2 linked regions of the Homo sapiens genome follow. The protein of the gene in region 1 interacts with the protein of each later gene in a pairwise test. Each region holds a gene or a part of one and is shown on either strand. Other genes may lie near its edges.

The links.
Region 2: the proteins of KIF3A (region 1) and MAP3K10 interact in a two-hybrid assay, tested with the Homo sapiens proteins (one study listed by BioGRID).

Annotation. Positions count from the first base shown.
Region 1 is NC_000005.10:132,697,481-132,707,671, reverse strand, and holds part of KIF3A (kinesin-like protein KIF3A), read left to right. Parts: intron 1-1,212; coding exon 1,213-1,221; intron 1,222-4,052; coding exon 4,053-4,209; intron 4,210-4,606; coding exon 4,607-4,787; intron 4,788-5,003; coding exon 5,004-5,114; intron 5,115-5,459; coding exon 5,460-5,585; intron 5,586-6,971; coding exon 6,972-7,025; intron 7,026-7,387; coding exon 7,388-7,456; intron 7,457-8,376; coding exon 8,377-8,501; intron 8,502-10,191. UniProt on the Homo sapiens protein: Microtubule-based anterograde translocator for membranous organelles. Plus end-directed microtubule sliding activity in vitro. Plays a role in primary cilia formation. Plays a role in centriole cohesion and subdistal appendage organization and function.
Region 2 is NC_000019.10:40,199,775-40,209,965, reverse strand, and holds part of MAP3K10 (mitogen-activated protein kinase kinase kinase 10), read right to left. Parts: intron 5,482-10,191; coding exon 5,333-5,481; coding exon of another isoform or gene 5,309-5,332; intron 4,846-5,308; coding exon 4,670-4,845; intron 4,056-4,669; coding exon 3,809-4,055; intron 864-3,808; coding exon 747-863; intron 1-746. UniProt on the Homo sapiens protein: Activates the JUN N-terminal pathway.

The sequences.
Region 1 (10,191 bases):
CTCTATTGACAATTTGTAGGCAAGTTACCAAAACAATTCATTTCAAAGGATAATTTGTAAAATACTTGGAATTGCATTAGAAACCACATAGAGGTATTACTTTGTATAATAAACTGTGAAATATGCGAAAATATTTGAGTGGGAGGCGTTGCAATTTAGTTTTCTGTTTTAAAACTTAATTCTTAAAGAGTAGTTATATGAAAGTATGTTATGAAATGAGTTGTACTTTGTTCAATTCAAGAAGTTTTAATTCCTATTTGCGTACCTAGCACATAATTTTTTTCTTGTAATGTGGGCGTGTTGGTGAAGTGGAGAGATGGTTGTCCTAGCATGTGGTTGCTGTGTGTACCTTCCCTTTTAAATATCTCAATGGCCTTTTTAAAAGGTGTTTCTTGCTTGAGTCCTTAATTGGCAGTGACTCCTGTAGAATCATTGTTTATAATTACCCTTAAAAATCTACTAATAGAAGGAATGTAAGTTTGTTACTGTACAGGTATACTTCATTTTATGTAATAATTTTATTTTCTGGAAAAAAAAAAAAGCCCTTAATCCGGTTGGGAAATCGGATGTATTGGGAGAACTTGTGTCTTTAAAAATTCTTCATTAGACCTTTCTGTTAATCAAATAATCAGTGGAAATTACTGTAATCTAATTTATCTGTTGGATTGGTTCAGGTTTTTGTGTTAGATTTTCTTAAAGTGAAGCATGCCTATAATAGATCCATATACTAAAAGAAATATTGAATTGGGACATTTTTGATATGGACAGTGTGAATTTTGTCACTTTAAATGTACTAGTTGTTAAAATTGCCTTAATTTTCTGTTTTGCCCTTTTAGATTACTTCCCAGATCTTAGCAGGTTCCTAATTCCATGTCTTCTGTTAGCATAACCACATGGTGTTGAACTGTGACCTTTGCAGGACTTGGGGAATCAGTGTGAGATCTTGAGATTGACTTGAGTTATAATCTAAGACTAAGTTAACTTTAATATTCTTGCTTAAATGACATCTCTCGTTGTGTTGAATATGCTTTCTTTTTACATGGGCTCTATTTCAGTTTTGATAACGGTTTGATTTTTATTTCTACACTTAAATGAATGCTATTATATATTTTTCTTTGTTTCACAAGAGAAATAATGTTTTCCTTTTTTTCCTCCTCATCTCTGTGCGTATTGCTTCCTGTCTGCGATTTGCTTACTACTTCTTATTGCAAGATCAAGCAGGTTGGTGTGATTGATTTGCACTCCACATGGTACAATTATTTATCCTATAAAGAACTATGTTATTTAAATACATTAAATTTTTAAAATTTAGTAGTTTTTTTACCAGGTAAGTATCTATCTTTTGTATTTTTAACAATCTTTCAACTTTAGCTTTTAAAAAGAACTTCATTTTTTTCCCTAAATTCTTAAAGACTCATTAAGCCAAAGTTTGGAAATACAAGTGTAAATTATTTCACATTCAAACATTTTTCTCCTTTTTTCTTAAAGCCAAGAATCAAATACCTGGTTATGCCGTGGTTGCTTATGTAATAAAAATGAAATTAATTCAATTAGGACTGCCCTGAAGTTCTTCCCCTTTGACTTACCCTGGCCGGTTAACGTTCACAATATTGGTTAGAGCACATGGCAAAGGGCAATAAAAAAATGTTGCTACTTATGTCTGGTTTAGTTAAATACTGTTTATGGCATTAACTTTTAAAAATATTTATTTACCTGAAATTTTGTGCTGAATTTTATCATGCATTGTTAGAAATAGATTTCTTTTTTGTTTGATTGGTTTAAGAAGGTTTTTTTAAAAAAAAGTCCTTTGAAAAATACATATAAAAGTGACTTTTACTGATGTCACATTTTTAAATACCTGGTTAGGAGAGTTAGCACATATTCACATTTAGCTTAAAATATTATTTGTGGAGAAATATAATGATTTGTCAGAGTGATTCTGGCTAAAGTAATATGTTACTTAAATATTAGGCTTTTGAAACTAACCCTGGCTATATATCTTTGATTGTCTTCATGAAAGTGTTACAAGACCACAATAAGATTTTTGCTGCTAAAGTATCAGTTTGGAAACATACCTGAATGGTTTTAAATTACTAATGTAATGCATTAATGCATGAACAGTTATGTGTCTTTGTATTTCCACATGTAAAATCTTTTTATTTAAAAAACTTTTTATTTTACTGCTTCTTAATGGGTTTTGAAACTGTTTTTAACTATTGAAACAATTAGAACCCTTGAAGCCTGTACATACTACTGTTCATATGTTGATTAGATCATTTCCTCTATACTGTTAGCATCAGTGTCTTCATGCATTTATTATTTTTGTCTTAACATATGTCCCATTTTGTCTTTAAATATTTATAATTCTCAGGTGGAAAGGAAGTTACACTTTTTTAAATGCGTATACTTACTATATACCTGAACTGATACTTTTCTCCTTCAAATTTCTAAGACATAGTATGACTGATGGGATAAGTAGTTTGGGAATAGTAGTTAAATTATTTTAAAGTTATTTTTTAACAGCTAATTCAAAAGATTCAATACAGATGACTGTGCCAAACAAGCCAGTAAATAGAATCAGTCTACATCCTGACTTTTGGAATGCAATGAATCACACCACACCAAAGCATGAATTTGGATCAGTGCTTTTATTTACTCTTTTATTTCATTTGTCTTGTGTCTTAGGTTTGCTCTGGACTTACAGTTCTATACAAATAATGTATTTTAAACCCTAGAGTTTTTTACATAATTTTGTCATAAAGAGTTAAAGCCTATTAATGATTCTTCATTTCATAGTTCCTGAAAAAATATACTCAGTTATATATCTCCATCATAATTATTTTTCAGTTCTTTTTCCTTGTTAGGTGGTGGGGGTTAGCTTTTGGGTGGAGACATTAACAATTTATACACTCTTATGATTTACACTCTTCTTCTGTAGTTCTTTGGGAAGGAAGTTAAGAATGACGGAAAGGTTCTAGGAGAGCCTCAGACCAATTCTGTGAAAAGTGTTATTGGTTTTCTGAAGGAATGTATGTTTCTAAGAAACTGTATGACCAGAAATGAATTGTCTTTGATTCAGTTTCATCACCAGTTTAATAAGCTAGTTTTATTTTCTCTTTTTCATTTGGATTTTGTTATTTTGAAATTCATTAATAAACTTTCTTTGAGCACCTATTACATGTATGTAAAATACTTTATTAGACATTATTAGCAAAAATAATCAATTGGAAGCCATATTCCAGCTTTATTATTTGGTAGTATTTCTACTTATATTTGACACTTGGCATGTTTACTCTGACTTAGGGAGCCTTCGGGTCCTGAGTTTGACATAATAACAAGCTATTTTAGTTGTTCCTTTAGTGTATGATGATATATCTTGACAGCTCAGCAACTGTGAAATGCTTGGTTAATTACTGTGTATGTAACTGTTACATAATTACATAGTATAGAATTTTTTCCTTTAAAAGTATGCTGTGAAATAAAATACTTTAATGTTATTAAACAAAAATTTTAGAAAAACTCTGAAAAATATATTAAAACTACTTGATGTAAATTCTGCCTGATATTTTCATCTGTGCATTTTATACCTATATATGACTTTTATTCACTTGTTTTATGTGAACTTGGGGAAGATATTTTAAGGAGTCGCTTGATTTTATACTTGGTTATCAGGAAAAAGTAACTGAAGAATCATGTTGCTTTTTTTTTAACCTATATTTGTTATCTGGGGACATATATATTTTTTAATTTGGCTTTCCTGTTAATCTTTCTTTTCCTATTATTTAGCTCATCTATTTTGCTTCTCTTTCGCTTTTGTTCTTAGTTATCATTGTACAATTGGACAACAGTTTGAATTTAGCAATGAGTTATAAAGTTCTAGGAGCATAATAAATGGAAATGCATGATATTATTGGTTTGATTTCCTTAAAATATTGATAATTGGTTTTGTATTATTGAGGAGTGTAGGCATTTCTATATTGAAGGAGGTAATTTATATAAGTCTGAAACATTGATTCATTTTAGTGATTGTTGCAATTAAATGATTCAAATAGGAAAAAAGAAAGTCTCCCCAGACAAGATGATTGAAATGCAAGCAAAAATTGATGAGGAGAGAAAAGCACTTGAAACAAAGCTCGACATGGAAGAAGAAGAAAGAAACAAGGCTAGAGCTGAATTAGAGAAACGGGAAAAAGATCTTCTTAAAGCCCAGTGAGTATTATTGAATTGAGATGAATTCATGATTTAAATTTCTGTTTTTTCCTAGGATATATAAAATAGGAAAATTGAATAGTAATTAAAAGCTTGGATTTTTGTCTCCAGTGTAGCTATTTTGGATAGAAGGGTCCATTGTATATAGTGTATTTCTAAAAACTAGATCTATTTTGGTTATTTTATTTCCGTGTGATAGGAAAACATATCAATGAATTAGAATGAGTTATAAATTAAGTTAGAAATCGATACTACACAGTGGTGTAATTTGGCAGAGATGTTACATAATTATATTTCTATTTTGAAATTGTATATCCAAATTTTAAATTTTGGGAAATGATATTAGTAGAATAATAGATCATCAGTGAATATAGAGTATTCTCATTCTAATCAACAGACAAGAGCATCAGTCTTTGCTGGAAAAATTATCTGCCCTGGAAAAGAAGGTAATTGTTGGTGGGGTTGACTTGTTGGCCAAAGCTGAGGAACAAGAGAAACTTCTTGAAGAATCTAACATGGAACTGGAAGAAAGGAGGAAAAGAGCAGAGCAACTTCGCAGAGAACTTGAGGAAAAAGAGGTAATGTGACTTTCTGTTTTTAGTTTGGTATTTTGCCAGAGAGATTTAACTTTTCTAGTGGAAAGCTAAATATCTATAATCGTATTGAAATTTTAAAGCATATTTATGGATTGCTTTGAAGATCAGATTTGCTAAACATTTATGTCATTTGTTAAAGAATTAGATATTTGATTTTACAAAGAAATTTATTCTGAAGTTTACTAATTTTTGTCATAGCAAGAACGCTTGGATATTGAAGAAAAATATACCAGTTTGCAAGAGGAAGCACAGGGAAAGACCAAGAAGTTAAAGAAAGTTTGGACTATGCTGATGGCTGCAAAGTCAGAGGTTGGTTCTCTTAGAAATTACCTACTAATGCAGTTCTGGATTTTTTAAAAGGGAGTTCTTTGATTAAGAATTTATAAATAATCATAATGTGAGCTTATAATTTAAAAGAAATAAAATATTTCTTTATGTGCAATTTTTAATTTTATCTATTAGTCTAAATTGTTTCTTTTCAACCTTAACAAATAGTGTAGAATAGATGCTGATAGTGTCACGCTGTTTATCATTTTTATAAAAGAACTAGGTAAGCTCTCACAAGGTTTCTTAGACAAGCATCCTATGTGAGATGGTGCTGTTTTGTAGTTAAAGTCTTGTTTGTTCATAATATTTTTATGGATTTTCTGGTAGATGGCTGATCTCCAACAAGAACATCAGAGGGAAATTGAAGGCCTACTGGAGAACATTCGGCAACTTAGCCGGGAGCTTCGACTTCAGATGCTTATTATTGATAACTTTATACCTCGGGATTATCAGGTAAAAAGGAAGTTCTCTGACCGAGATAGTCGCTTGACTGGGATTAAGGAACAAAGATTTCTAATTTAACTGATGATAAATACTTAATACTTCAGTTATTGAATGTACAATTTTTTGAACAAATGCCATCACATTTCACTTTAGTTGTTAACTTTTAATACATAATCTCTGTTTGAGTATCTAGCCTTTTAGACGAACTCAGATTCATGTATATGTGATCAGAATCAAGGTGTAGGTCCCATTCCTTCATTCAGCGCCCATTATCATACAAGTAGAATAAATGGAACCTCTGTGCTGCCTTTTTCTCCCTGCTGTGGGTGCTGATTCTTTGTGTGTGTGTGTGTATATGGTAAAATATAGATAACATGAAATTTACCATCTTAGCTATTTTAAGTGTGCAGTTCAATGGCATTTAGGACATTCACATTGTTGTGCAACCTGTACCATCATTCATCTCCAGATGGATGCTAATTCTTAGTACTAGTATAATTTTAAAATCTCAGCCTCTATTTTTTTTAATCCAAAATTTGTCTTTCCAGTGCATTTTGGTAAACTTTAACATGATTTTTTTTTTTTTTTTTTTTGTCAGGGAGACAGAGTCACTTTGTTGCCCAGGCTGGAGTGCAGTGGTGCAATCTCGGCTCCCTGCAACCTTCACTTCCCGGGTTCAAGTGATTCTCATGCCTCTGCCTCCCGAGTAGCTGGGATTACAGGCGTGTACCACCACACCCAGCTAATTTTTGTATATTTAGTAGAGATGGGGTTTAGCCATGTTGGCCAGGCTGGTCTTGAGTTCCTGAGCTCAGGTTGATCTGCCCGTTTTGGCCTCCCAAAATGATGGGATTACAGGTGTTAACCACCATGCCTGGCCAATTTTTTAAAAATCTGTTTTGAATCTCAATACAGTTTTAAGAAATTTGTCTGAAAATAAGTCTTAGTCATTTTTTTTTTTTTTGGACCTCAGGTACATGGAATTAGTCCTGGGTTCATGGTACATTCTCCTTATTGGTCCTTGGATGGCCTGCTTTTATTTAGTTATTTTGTAATGAACTCATCACCCAAAACAATATCTAGGACCCTGATAATAACTACTTCTAACCAGTTTCCCCTTCCCTTATTTCATTCCTTTGCCTCTTCCAACCCAAGGTAATCATTATCTTGATTCCCAAGTTTCTCATTCTGTTGTTTTTTCATTTTCATTTAGTTTTATTTCATCTGCATGCATTCCTAAGAAATATGTATTTTAGAATTTATAAAAAGGTTATATCAGTATATAATGTTTTGAGACTTTTATTACTCAATGTTATTAAGATTTTAGTTTTATGACTTCAATATTTTAGATGTTATTAAATATTAAAAATAGGCTATCTTTCACCCTTTTAAAAGGAAATGATTGAAAACTATGTCCATTGGAATGAAGACATAGGAGAATGGCAGCTAGTGAGTATTACCTTCATTCTTTCACGTAATAATTAAAGAGTACTTCCTATGGTCTAGAAATTGTGCTGGCTACAGTGGGGAGGAACATGGTCCAGTAGATGAATCAGATGAGAATCCAGTAGGGCAGATAAAATATTTTTCTAATTCCATGTAATTAATTGTAACATACAGATCATGGTCTGGGTGGAAATGGTCAGAGTTAGGGGCTATGTGGGACTAAGTGACCTCTGGGGCCCTTTCTGCTCTAGCATTCAAATCATGTTTTACTAGTGTAATGTTAGGATTTCTCAGTTATTTGCCTAACTCACAGTATTGATTACTAATTAAGACATTTCTCTGTCTCTCCCTTTTCTTTTTTTGAGAAATGTGTTGCTTATACAGGAAATAACATGAGGAAGCAAACCCCAGTACCTGATAAAAAGGAGAAAGATGTAAGAGTACTTAAAAAAAAACAAAACAAAACACAAAACTACTGTTGTTTCTTTATAGGAATATGAGTCATTAAATTGTATTATCAACTTGATATCTGTTAATCAGCTCTGCTGAAAAATGGGCTGATACTTTTGGGAATAAAGGCTCTAGGATGGGGTGATGAGGAGGACAGTTCTGCTTACCATCAGTCTTGATGTCAGGCTTATTCCCACCACAAGAGGGGCATGGACTCACTCTTTGGAGTCCTCTTTTCACTACCACTCTGGGTCGTAGGATTATGGGTGGAGACTAGAATGTGTCTTTCTTTCTCTTCAAAGCTAGTTCTAGTCCTAGGTCAAGAAGAAGAGGGAGCGGGCCGGGCGTGGTGGCTCACGCCTGTAATCCCAGCACTTTGGGAGGCCGAGGCGGGTGGATCACGAGGTCAGGAGATCAAGACCATCCTGGCTAACACAGTGAAACCCCGTCTCTACTAAAAAAATACAAAAAAAATTAGCCGGGCGTGGTGGCGGGTGCCTGTAGTCCCAGCTACTCAGGAGGCTGAGGCAGGAGAATGGCGTGAACCCAGGAGGTGGAGCTTGCAGTGAGCCCAGATCGCGCTACTGCACTCCAGCCTGGGCGACAGAGTGAGACTCCGTCTCAAAAAAAAAAAAAAAAGAAGAAGAAGAGGGGGCAGCTTTAAGAAAAACAGCAACAGTTTTTATGTCCAAGGAAATTTATAGTGTGTCAGGGCTTCTTACTCACCAACCTTTATTAAGTACATTTTAGATACTGGGATTAGAAGATGATGTCATTAGACATTTCTTTGGTTTTAGCTTCTGTGGGTTTGATCAAGGAGTTTATTCAGTATTTTAAATCTTCCCCCAAATCTGGCTTTAACTCTTTGCCTTAAGAGTGCTTTGTGTTTGTTTCTTTTACTTAGCCCTTTGAGGTGGACCTTTCTCACGTGTATCTTGCCTATACTGAGGAGAGTCTGCGTCAGTCTTTGATGAAACTAGAAAGACCACGAACTTCAAAGGGGAAAGCAAGGCCAAAGACAGGGAGAAGGTAAGGACTGTCCTTGAATCTGGTAAAACGAAGGCATTGAGGTATTCTAATTAGATACATGTACAGGAAGTTAAAATTTATTTAGTTAAAACATGATACATATTTTGGCTGATTTATTAAAAATCAAATTCCTGGCTGGGCACAGTGGCTCACGCCTGTAATCCCAGCATTTTGGGAGGCCGAGGCAGGTGGATCATTTGAGGTCAGGAGTTTGAGACCAGCCTGGCTAACATAGTGAAACGCTGTCTCTACTAAAAATACAAAAGTTAACCAGGCATGGTGGCGCATGCCTGTAATCCCAGCTACTGGGGAGGCTGAGGCATGAGAATCGCTTGAACCCAGGAGCCGGAGGTTGCAGTTAGCCGAGATCATGAGATCATGCCACTGAACTTCAGCCTGGGTGACAGAGCAAGACTTGGTCTCAAAAAAAAAAAAAAAAAATCAAATTCCTTATGTATTAGAATTTGAGTAAATAAAATCTGGCCAAAGAATTAAGGTCTTCCAACTTCTTAGGCTTCTGAGTAATAGAATTTATTTTTAATTCACTCTGTTATTTCCAAATGTATAATGGGTTTAATTCCTTAATTCTTAGACTAATTCTTCTTATGAAATGCTAATTAATTTGCCTGTTTGGTCTCCCAAGGTATTGTATTCAGCTGGTTAGTTTTTCTGTCAGGTGCCCCAAGAACCTTGATTTCCTCAGTCACCAGCTAAGGAGAACTTCCTTGGACATTTCCCCCTCTCCTTTGGGCACTGGTTTTGACTGTTGGGTAGTCTGCGTGTATCATCACATAAGCTCAGGGAAATCGGGATATGGGAGTCCTGGGCTGGAGCTTATTTTTTTTTCCTTTCCCTTTCCTACATCAAGGACTGTTCAGTTTATTTAAGCTGATTTTAAGACTCTGGGGCTCCTAAAATGTAGGAAATAATAAGCTGCTTTTTTCCCTACTTTGAGTGCATGGACTTTCAAGTTACATGTGGGATGAAGTTGTACGGTTTTGATATCTTTGTGTTACATAATCTCATAGACATGACTTAACACTTATAAATTTGGGATGGTTGAACTCAGGGTTGGGCAAACAGTTGAATATTAAAAATGTACAAATTTTTACATTCTTTAGCATTTAGGTGAGGGGTTAAAAACTTTCCTATACCAACACATGCCAAGCATATTGTAGTGAAGCAAATCAGTTCTAAGAAACATGAGTCCCTTTAGATGTATCTTTTTTTCCATTTTTAATAAAATGACAGTGCAAGTGTGATGATAAATGGTAAGACATTTGTCCCCAGCGTAGGAGAAAAATTGGCAGTGGTGAGCAGTCCTGTCTAAAGTGAGTGGCTGCTATTCTCTTCCTAGTTATCTATGGAAATAGAGGGCTCATTGTTTCTGGATCTTCTGTTTTCTTTTCTTTTCTTTTTTTTGAGATGGAGTCTCACTCTGTTGCCCAGGCTGGAGTGCCCTGAGTAGCTGGGATTACTGGCACCTGCCACCATGCCCAGTTAATTTTAGTATTTTTACTAGAGATGGGGTTTTGCCCTGTTGGCCAGGCTGGTCTCGAACCCCTGACTTCAGGTGATCTGCCCACCTCAGCCTCCCAGAGTGTTATGATTACAGGCATGAGCCACCGTGCCTGGCCTGGATCTTCTCTTTTCTAAGGAAAAGCCAGAAATTCGAATTATTTACTTGAGA
Region 2 (10,191 bases), on another chromosome or scaffold:
GAGATGGGGTCTCGCTTTGTTGCCCAGGCTGGTGTCGAACTCCTAGGCTCAAGCAATCCTCCCACTTCATCCTCCCAAAGTGCTGGGATTACAGGTATGAGTCATCGTGCCCAGCCAATACATCTCTTTCTATATATCTAAACATATGCTGTTGATTCTGTTTCTCTGAAGAACTCCGATTAATACATCTCCTCTTTTATTCCCTTCCCTGAGCTCCTTTAAAGAACTTATCACTACTAGAAATTATCCTGCGCCCGGGCGCGGTGGCTCATGCTGTAATCCCAGCACTTTGTGAGGCTGAGGTGGGTGGATCACTTGAGGTCAGGAGTTCGATACCAGCCTGGCCAACATGGTGAAACCCCCATCTCTATTAAAAATACAAAAAATTAGGCAGGCGTGGTCATGTGTGACTGTAACCACAGCTACTCGGGAGGCTGAGGCAGGAGAATCGCTGGAACCCAGGAGGCGGAGGTTGCAGTGAGCTAAGATTGCACCACTGCACTCCAGCCTGGGAGATAGAGCGAGACTCTGTCTGTCTCCAAAAAAAAAGAAAAAAAAAAAAAAGAAATTATCCTGCTTACTGACTTATTTGTTTACTATCTGTTTCCTGTGATAAGAATGAGGAAAAGGGCCTTGTCTGTCTTCTTTCTTGCTGTTACTCTGGCTTGGTGCCAGGTATAAACATCGTGCTAAAAAATGTTTGTTCACTGACTGACTGACTGGTCAGGGCCTTGGGAGATACTCACGGCGAATGGCCCTCAGCCGGGGGATGATGCTGGGGCTTGCAGGGGGGCTGGCCCCATCGGATCCTTTCCGCTTATCCAGAGTTGGAGAGGCCTGGACTGTGATCTTATGCTCAAAGCCTGCAGAAAGAAAGAGAAGCTTTCCTAAGCAAATGGTTCCAGGGATTACCAAAGGGAATTTTCTTCTGTAGAAGTAGAGAAGGAATTCTAGAATGGGAACACCGCCATTTTTCATTCCTTAATGCAGTGGTTCTCAGAGTGTGGGCCCCAGAACAGCAGCATCACCATCAGCTGAAAATTTCTTGGCAATGCAAATTCTTGGGCCCTCCCTGAATCAGCAAGTTGGGGTGAGGCTCAGCAATGGACTGTGGTTTAATAAGTACAAGCACAAGAGCTCTTGTGGATCAAGGACCTAGGCCTCAGTGTCCAATATGGCCGCCAGTAGCTACGTGTAGCAGCTGAGCACCTTGAAATGTGGCTTGTGCAATGGGGGAATTGGAGTTTAACCTTTATTTATCTAATTTTTAAACTGTATATATATATATATATAAAGGATGAGTTCTCACTGTGGTGACCAGGCTGGTCTTGAACTCTTGGCCTCGAGCAATCCTCCAGCATCCGCCTCCCAAAGTGCTGGGATTACAGGTGTGAGCCACCATGCCCAGCCAACTCTTTATTTTATTGTAATTACCGCAATTTGAGTTTAAATTTTAAAAACAGGTATGGGGGCTGGGCGCGGTGGCTCATGTCTGTAATCCCAGCACTTTGGGAGGCCGAGGCAGGCGGATCACGAGGTCAGGAGATTGAGACCATCCTGGCTAACACGGTGAAACCCTGTCTCTACTAAAAATACAAAAAAAAAAAAAAAAAAAAAAAAGAAAGAAAGAGCCAGGCGTGGTGGCGGGTGCCTGTAGTCCCAGCTATTCAGGAGGCTGAGGCAGGAGAATGGCATGAACCTGGGAGGCAGAGCTTGCAGTGAGCCGAGATCATGCCACTGCACTCCAGCCTGGGTGACAGAGCGAGGCTCCATCTCAAAAAAAACAAAAACAAAAACAAAAAAACAAACAACAAAAAACAGGTACTCCATTTGGTTATTGGAAACATTTAAGCATGTTTGGAGCAACTTGGGTATGTATATGTACTTTTTCAACTCTAACTTTTATGAAATCTAAATACAGATCCAATATTTTTGATGGGTCAGGTACAGTAGCTCACACCTGTAATCCCAGCACTTTGGGAGGCCAAAGTGGGAGCGCTGCCTGAGCGCAGGAGTTCAAGACCACCCTGGGCAATATAGCAAGACCCCATCTCAGAAAAAAAAAAATTTTTAATGAAAATTTACTGTCCAAATTTAGATGTGCCATAAATATAAAATACATCTGGATTTCAAAGATTTAGTGTGAAAAAAGAAGGTAAAATATCTCACAATTATTTTGTATTGATTGCATGGATATATTGGGCTAAATTAAAAAATATATATATTTTTTGAGATGGAGTTTTGCTCTTGTCGCCCAGGCTGGAGTACAATGGCGCGATCTCGGCTCACTGCAACCTCTGCCTCCCAGGTTCAAGCGATTCTCCTGCCTCAGCCTCCTGAGTAGCTGGGATTACAGGCATGCGCCACCACGCCCGGCTAATTTTGTAGTTTTAGTAGAGATGGGGTTTCTCCATGTTGGTCAGGCTGGTCTCAAACTCCTGACCTCAGGTGATCTGCCCGTCTTAGCCCCAAAAAGTGCTGGGATTACAGACGTGAGCCACCCCACCTGGCCTAATAAAAAATATTAAAATTGACATCTCTTATTTCTTTTTGCTTTTATGTGTAGCTTACTAGAAAATTTAAAATTATACACGTGGCTTGTATTATATTTCCACTGGCCACTGCTGCTTAAGGCACTGCTTTCTGGCTTGTAACATCACAGAAAGAGACAAGTAGACACTACGTGCCTCCCTCCTGAATGCATTACCTGGGAAGCAGTGTGGGGAAAAAAAAAATCAAACCTGAATCTGAATCTGATTAAGTCTTGAGATCCAACTATTAGGTTGATCCATGTGAAACTTCTGTTTTTGTAGGTAAAAAAATGGTCAAATATCAGCATATATATGTATATCTTAATTATATATTTTGTGACAGAGTCTCACTCTGTCACCCAGGCTGGAGTGCAGTGGCACAATCTCGGCTCACTGCAACCTCTGCTTTCCGGGTTCAAGCGATGCTTGTGCCTCAGCCTCCCAAGTAACTGAGATTACAGGCGTGTGCACCACCACACCCAGCTAATTTTGTAGTTTTAGTAGAGGCGGGATTTCACCATGTTCTAGAGCCAGGCTGCTCTAGAACTCCTAGCCTCAAGTGATCTACGCACTTTGGCCTCCCAAAATGCTGGGATTACAGGCGTGAGCCACTGCACCTGGCCAGATTAAAAGATATTTTTAAAGAGAGATAACATGAAAAAGAAAGTTCAGAAGTGACTGTCCTAAGTGTCAAGACAGATGTTCCTCTCAGGGGATGGTGTGAGGTTGTCTGGAGGGGCAGGTAGAAAGCACTTGGGATGGCTGTGAGGTTCTCTCTGCTTTCATGGGGGTGACTAGAGTAACTCATTTGGCTGTACAGGTTTTTGGTCATTTTCTTTTTTTCTTCTTCTTCCCTTTAGAGATAGGGTCTTGCTCTGCTGCCCAGACTGGAGTGCAGTGGTGCAATTACAGCTCACTGCAGCCTCGAACTCCTGGACTCAAGTGATCCTCCCACCTCAGCCTCCCCACTAGCTTGGACTATAAGTGCATGCCAACGTGGCCAGCTAATTAAAAAAAATTTTTTTTTTTTTTGGTAAATATGGGGTCTATGTTGCCCAGGCTGGTCTCAAACTTCTGGCCTCAAGTGATCCTCCCACCTTGGCCTCCTGAGTAGGCTGGGACTACAAGTGCTCGCCACTGCACTGGGCTGATCACTGACTATGTGCGATATATTTAGCAATAAAAACAAGTTGAAAAAGAAAAGGAAGAGATAAATCCTAGGTCGGGGCTGCTCCCAGCAGCCTCTTGGGGGGCGCTCTGGGGACACGGGTGGGTACCAGAGGGCAGGCTGATGTGGCTGCCGCCTTCCCGCAGCTTGAGCAGGCGGCTGCGCTTGAAGTTGCCCTTGCGCTTGCGGACCCGGGGCTTCTCCTGGCTCAGCTGGCACATGAGCAGGTGCAGCTCCCGTTCCACGATGTCCATCTCACGTTCTGCCAGCTCCTGCTCCCGCCGCCGCAGCTGCTCCTCCTGGAAGCGCTGCTCCTGTGCCGCCCGCAGCAGCTCCTCCTCACGGCTCCGAAGCTCCTGGGAAGGAGAGGCGGTGGCTGGGGGGAGGGGCTTAGCTGCTCTGCTTCCTGGGGAGGGACCCAGGGCTGCTGCGTCTGGTTGGTGCCTCACACAAGGGTACCTTGCTGTGGGGTACACTGGTTTCACCACCCGACTCATGCTTTGCTAGCCAAGCTGGGTGCCAGGGCAGGGAACTGTGTTAGCTCAAAGAAAGGGGTGCTTTTTCTTTCTTTTTCTTTCTTAACTCTTCAATTTAGAAAACTTCAAACATCCACAAAAGCAGAGAACAGTGCACCCCCCTGTACCCATCATCCAATTTCAACAATTACCTATGCTTTGCGAATCTTGTATCCCCGTCCTTCTCTCCTCTTGCCCTCTCTTCGTTTCTGCTGTAGTATTTTAAAGCCAACCCCAGACATCATGCAGTGTCACCTGTAAGTACTTCAGTACAGGGTGCCTTTTTCTTATTAATCCACCAACAGGAGGCTGTCTTTTCTTAATATGCAAAAAAGGCTCCCTTGACCCTGCATGGACCCAAAGGCTGGGGTTCAGGGGAGGAGTCTCTGAGCAGCCCAAGGCATCAGAACTCAGGGGTCTTGCTCCATCTTTCCCACCTTGCCCCCTGCCTTCACCTTCTCCTTGGTCCGAAGGTCATCAAACATGTGCTGAATCTCCAGCTTCCAGTCTTCCTGCAGCGAGTGGAAGGACTCCAGTGGCATCTGGAACAGGGCTGACTGTTCGATGACTTCAAGCCGCTTCAAGATGCTACCGAAATCTGGCCGCCCGTGGGGGTCTGGGTCCCAGCATTCTGGGGTGGGAGGAGGAAGGACAGTGGTGGGGCATGGAGGTGTCAGTGGTCATGCTCTGGGGACTCAGCCTGCTCAGAGGAAGGCAGAATTTCTGGGGATGGCAGACAAACAGCTGCTATGGAGCTGAGGGGAAGGGATTCAAAGCCAAGCTCCTGGCCAATTCCACTCAGTGAAACGCTGGGAGAGAAACCCTGGGACCTGCACCCCGAGGAGGGGCTGGTAGTGGAATCAGGATCAAGGTGGAATCCCAGGGCCAAGGAATCCTAACAGGTTGTCCTGAGAGCTCTGGGCCTGGCCCAAACAAGGGCTGGGATGTGGGGGATGGAGCCAACCATGGGGAGGCTGTTTAGAGTCCAGTGGGTTCCAGCCCCTTCTTCCTCACTCCTGGGCCCACTGGTATGGATAGGTGTGAAGGGGAAAGGTCTGGGCCCACAGGTCCCTGCCACTCCAAGCTGAGCCTACCCTCGTCACGGGGCCCCGGCTCACCCTCCAGGAGGCGGGCAAAGGGCTCGGGGCACGTGGAGGGAATGGGCAGCGTCAGCTTATTCATAGCCACGCCATACGCCACGGCCAAGGCGTCGATCTCACGGTAGGGGACCTCCCCCGTCAGCAGCTCCCACAGCAGCACCCCGAAGCTGCAGGCAGGGGAGAGGGAGGGGTGATGTCGCAGCCCACCCCAATCCTCACCTATACCCAGCCCTGCCCTTGGTCCCATGCAGGGCTGCCCTCACCCCAACAGCCACCCCCGGCCAATGAGGTCACAAGAACTTGCTTTGACCTCCATGGCCTTGTTCTCCAATAGATGGGGTGGGTTTGGCTCTCTGATGTCTCTCCTTTGCTCGGCCTGTCTTCCCTCTCCCCTGCCTGAAAATCTTCAGGTCCCGTGTTCCTACTGGCCAAATCCATCTTTCTTATTTTTATTTTTGTAGAGATGGAGGTCTCACTATGTTGCCCAGGCTGGTCTCAAACTCCTGGGCTCAAGTGATCCTCCTGCCTGGGCTTCCCAAAGTGCTGGGATTACAGGCATGAGCCACTGCATCCCACCTAAATCCATCCTTCTTGGCCCTGGCCTTTGATGACCCCTGCAGCCTCACTTCCAAACACTCTCAGCCCATTCTAACCCCAACTTCATCTTGCAGCCACACTGAATACTGAGCAGGCCCTGTGCTTTCTAACCTCTGGCCTTCACACATGCTGTTCCCTTTGTGGAGAACACTCTTCCCTTGTGTAACTATTTGTCCCTCAAGTCTCAACACAGGTTGCCCCCTCTGTCAGGAAGCCTTCCTTGATTCCACAGCCTCCAAAGCTAGGTTAGAGGCCCCTCCTCTACGTTTCCCCAAAACACTCAGCACTTACCTCTAAAAACCAGTTAACATTATTTAACATTTATAAAGCACTTACTGCAGGCCAGGCACTGTGCTAGGCACTCGGTAATCCTCACAACAGCCCTGTAAGGCAGAAGGATTTGGTATGACCCCTGCTTTAGCTGATGAGCAGGTACACGCTCAGAGAGGTAAGGGGCTTGCCCAAGGTCACACAGCTAGTGAGTGGTGGAGCCACACTTGGACTCAGGTCTGCCTGCTGCCCACGACAGTGCTCTCAGTGGCTCCATGGTACCAGAGCGTGCGTCACTGTGCTGTGGTCCCTGCAAGGCTATCTTCCTCTGCAAACTCTACATCCTCCCAGATCCTGATGGCCATTCTGTGTGGTGTTTATCCTGGAGTAGATCCCTGGTCTCCCCACTATCCACTCATGCATTCATTCAACATATCCTTTTTTTTTTTTGAGACAAAGTCTCTGTCACCCAGGCTGGAGTGCAGTGGCATGATCTCGGCTCCCTGCAACCTCCGCCTCTTGGGTTCAAGTGATTCTTGTGCCTCAGCCTCCCAAGTAGCTGGGATTACAGATGTGCACCACCATCCCAGCTAATTTGTGTATTTTTAGTAGAGATGGGGTTTCACCATGTTGGCCAGGCTGGTCTCCAACTCCTGACCTCAGGTTCCGCCTGCCTCAGCCTCCCAAAGTGCTGGGATTACAGGCATGAGCCACTGCGCCCGGCCCATTCAACGTATACTTATTAAGTGCCTACTGTGTGCCAAGCACCATTTTAGACATTGGGAAGAGATAGACACAATCACTGCCCCCATATGCAGCTGACAGCCTCCCATTCTTCAGTGACAGTGCTGGTGAATTGAGCTGGCCACATGCTGCCTGCATGAATTTTCCATTCTCCTTTGCAGCTAAGCATGCCACATGACCACAGTTCTGGTACATGGGATGTAGGAGGGGGTGTAGTAGGCAACTAGCTTCCAGGAAGTATCCTCAAAAAGAAGGGGTGCCCGGCCGGGAAAGAGTGTGAGGTGGGATGATGGCTTGAGCCCAAGAGTTCAAGGCTGCAGTGAGCTATGACTATACCACCACATTCTAGCCTGCGTGGGAGAGTGAGAGCCTGTCTTTTAAAAATTTTTTTAAATGAAAAATAAATTTATAGTGGGTTAATTTTATATTATTTATATCTTAAATAAGATGAAATCTGTCCCCAAACACCCTATCCTGTAAAGACTATTGTTCAAAGAAGGAACAGAATGGACCCCAAAATAAGAGGTGAAAATCCCCACATACACTCTAGTCATGCCAAGGGCAGCCTGACAGGCAAGGCTTCTTGCTTCCTGTCTCAACTTATCCCTGTCCTGCGAAGCCGCGGCAGGACACATCTGCAGCTCAGCACAGCAGACAGGCACAGGAGCGCAGGAACAAAAACAACATGGGTAAGAAAATGAGGCCGGGCGCGGTGGCTCACGCCTGTAATCCCAGCACTTTGGGAGGCCGAGGCGGGCGGATCACAAGGTCAGGAGATTGAGACCATCCTGGCTAGCACGGTGAAACCCCGTCTCTACTAAAAATACAAAAAATTAGTCAGGCGTGGTGGCGGGCGCCTGTAGTCCCAGCTACTCGGGAGGCTGAGGCAGGAGAATGGCGTGAACCCAGGAGGCGGAGCTTGCAGTGAGCTGAGATCGTGCCACTGAACTCCAGCCTGGAAGACAGAGTGAGACTACGTCTCAAAAAATAAAAAGAAGGGGTGCCATTTTCCTTTTTTCCCCTTCTTGTGGTTGGAATGTAGACATAAAACCTGGAGCCTGGGGGGTGGGGGACAAGGGGAGGGAGAGCATTAGGCAAATACCTGACACACGCGGGGCTTCAAACCTAGATGATGGGTTGATGGGTGCAGCAAACTACCATGGCACATGTATACCTATGTAACAAACCCTGCACGTTCTGCACATGTATCCCAGAACTTAAAATTAAAAAAAAAAAAAAAAAAAAAGCTGGCGTGTGGAGCTAGGCACAGTGGCTCACGCCTGTAATGTCAGCACTTTGGGAGGCCAAGACAAGAGGACCTCTTGAGCCCAAGAGATCGAGACCAGCGTAGGAAACAAAGTGAGACCTCGTCTCTACAAAAAATTAGCCTGGTGTGGTGGCATGCCTGTAGTCCCAGCTACTAGAGAGGCTGAGGTGGGAGGATCACTTGAGCCCAGGAGGTTGAGGCTGCAATGATTTGTGACGGCATCACTGCACTCCAGCCTGGGTGACAGAGCAAGACCCTGTTAAAAAAAAAAAAAAAAAAAAGGCTGGGTGCGGTGGCTGACGCCTGTAATCCCAGCACTTTAGGAGGCCCAGGTGGGCAGATCATGAGGTCAAGAGATCAAGGCTGTCCTGGCCAATATGGTGAAACCCCGTCTCTACTGAAAAATTAAAAAAAATAAATAAATAATACAAAAATTAGCTGGGCCTGGTGGCATGTGCCTGTAGTCCCAGCTACTTGGGAGGCTGAGGCAGGATAATTGCTTGAACCCAGGAGGCAGAGGTTTCAGTGAGCCAAGATCGCGCCGCTGTACTCCGGCCTGGGCGACAGAGCAAGACTCCAGCTCAAAAAAAAAAAAAAAACAAAAAACGCTGGAGCTCAAGCAGTCATTTTGGATCATGAAGTAAACTTCAGAATGGAGACCATACAAGGTGGGGGAGAAACAGTGGTTTATAACTGGAGGGTAGCATGATCCACCCCTCTCTCCCATGTCCTTGGAAACCTATGGGGTTACTGTGATTGTAATAATGACTGAGAATGTTACTGAAGTTTATGGCGGGGAGGTGTGGATATCCTGCATCCTGCTAAGTACAGGACAGGACCACATCAGAAAGAATTAGCCTGCCCGGCCGGGTGCAGTGACTCATGCCTGTAATCCCAGCACTCTAGGAGGCTGAGGCGGGCGGATCACCTGAGGTCAGGACTTCAAGACCAGCCTAGCCAACATGGTGAAACCCTGTCTCCACTAAAAATATAAAAATTAGCCAGTGCATGCCTATAATCTCAGCTACTCGGGAGGCTGAGGCACAAGAATCACTTGAATCTGGGAGGAGGAGGGTGCAGTGAGCTGAGATTGTGCCATTGCACTCCAGCCTGGGCGGCAGAGTGAGACTCTGTCCCAAAAAAAAAAAAAAAAAAAAAAAAGGTAGCACAAATGAACGCCTGATGTACAGCCAGTTGGAAATTCTCCCAAAGGGCTGCTCTGCTCTAGGCTGAGCTGGAGACTTCCTGTCTGATCTGTCTCAGTCCCATACCCATTAATTTGCTGCTTGGACAATCTGGAGCCTCAGCTGGGAATTGACGGGAACAGTAAATGGGGAGACCCAGGTTTGGCTCCAACCAAGCAGAAGGTCCTGGGTTGAAAGTCTCCATGGCCACCATCAACTCTCACTGGTGACAGCAACAGACCCATCATTGGCTGTCTCTACCTAACAGTCAAAGGAGCTTTTATTTTTAAGTATTTTTTTTCAGATGGAGTCTTGCTCTGTCACCCAGGCTGGAGTGCAACGGCGCCATCTCAACCTCTGCCTCCTGCAGTCAAGCAATTCCCCTGCCTCAGCCTCCTGAGTAGCTAGGACTACAGGCACCCACCACCATGCCTGGCTAATTTTTGTATTTTTAGTAGAGATGGGGTTTCACCATGTTGGCCAGGCTAGTCCTGAATGAACTCCTGGCCTCAAGTGAACCACCCACCTCGGCCTCCCAAAGTGCCAGGATTACAGGCGTGAGCCACCGCGCCTGGCCGAATTTTTGTATTTTTAGTAGAGGTGGGATTTCACCATGTTGGCCAGGCTGGTCTCAAACTCCTGGTGTCAAGGGATTCACCCACCTGGGCCTCCCAAAGTGCTGGGATTACAGGCGTGAGCCACCGCACCCGGCCTCCAAAGGAGTTTTTATTTACTTCCTTTTATAAAAATTAATTTAAAAATTTCTTTTTCATATACATGGGGTCTCACTACATTGACCAGGCTGGTCTCAAATT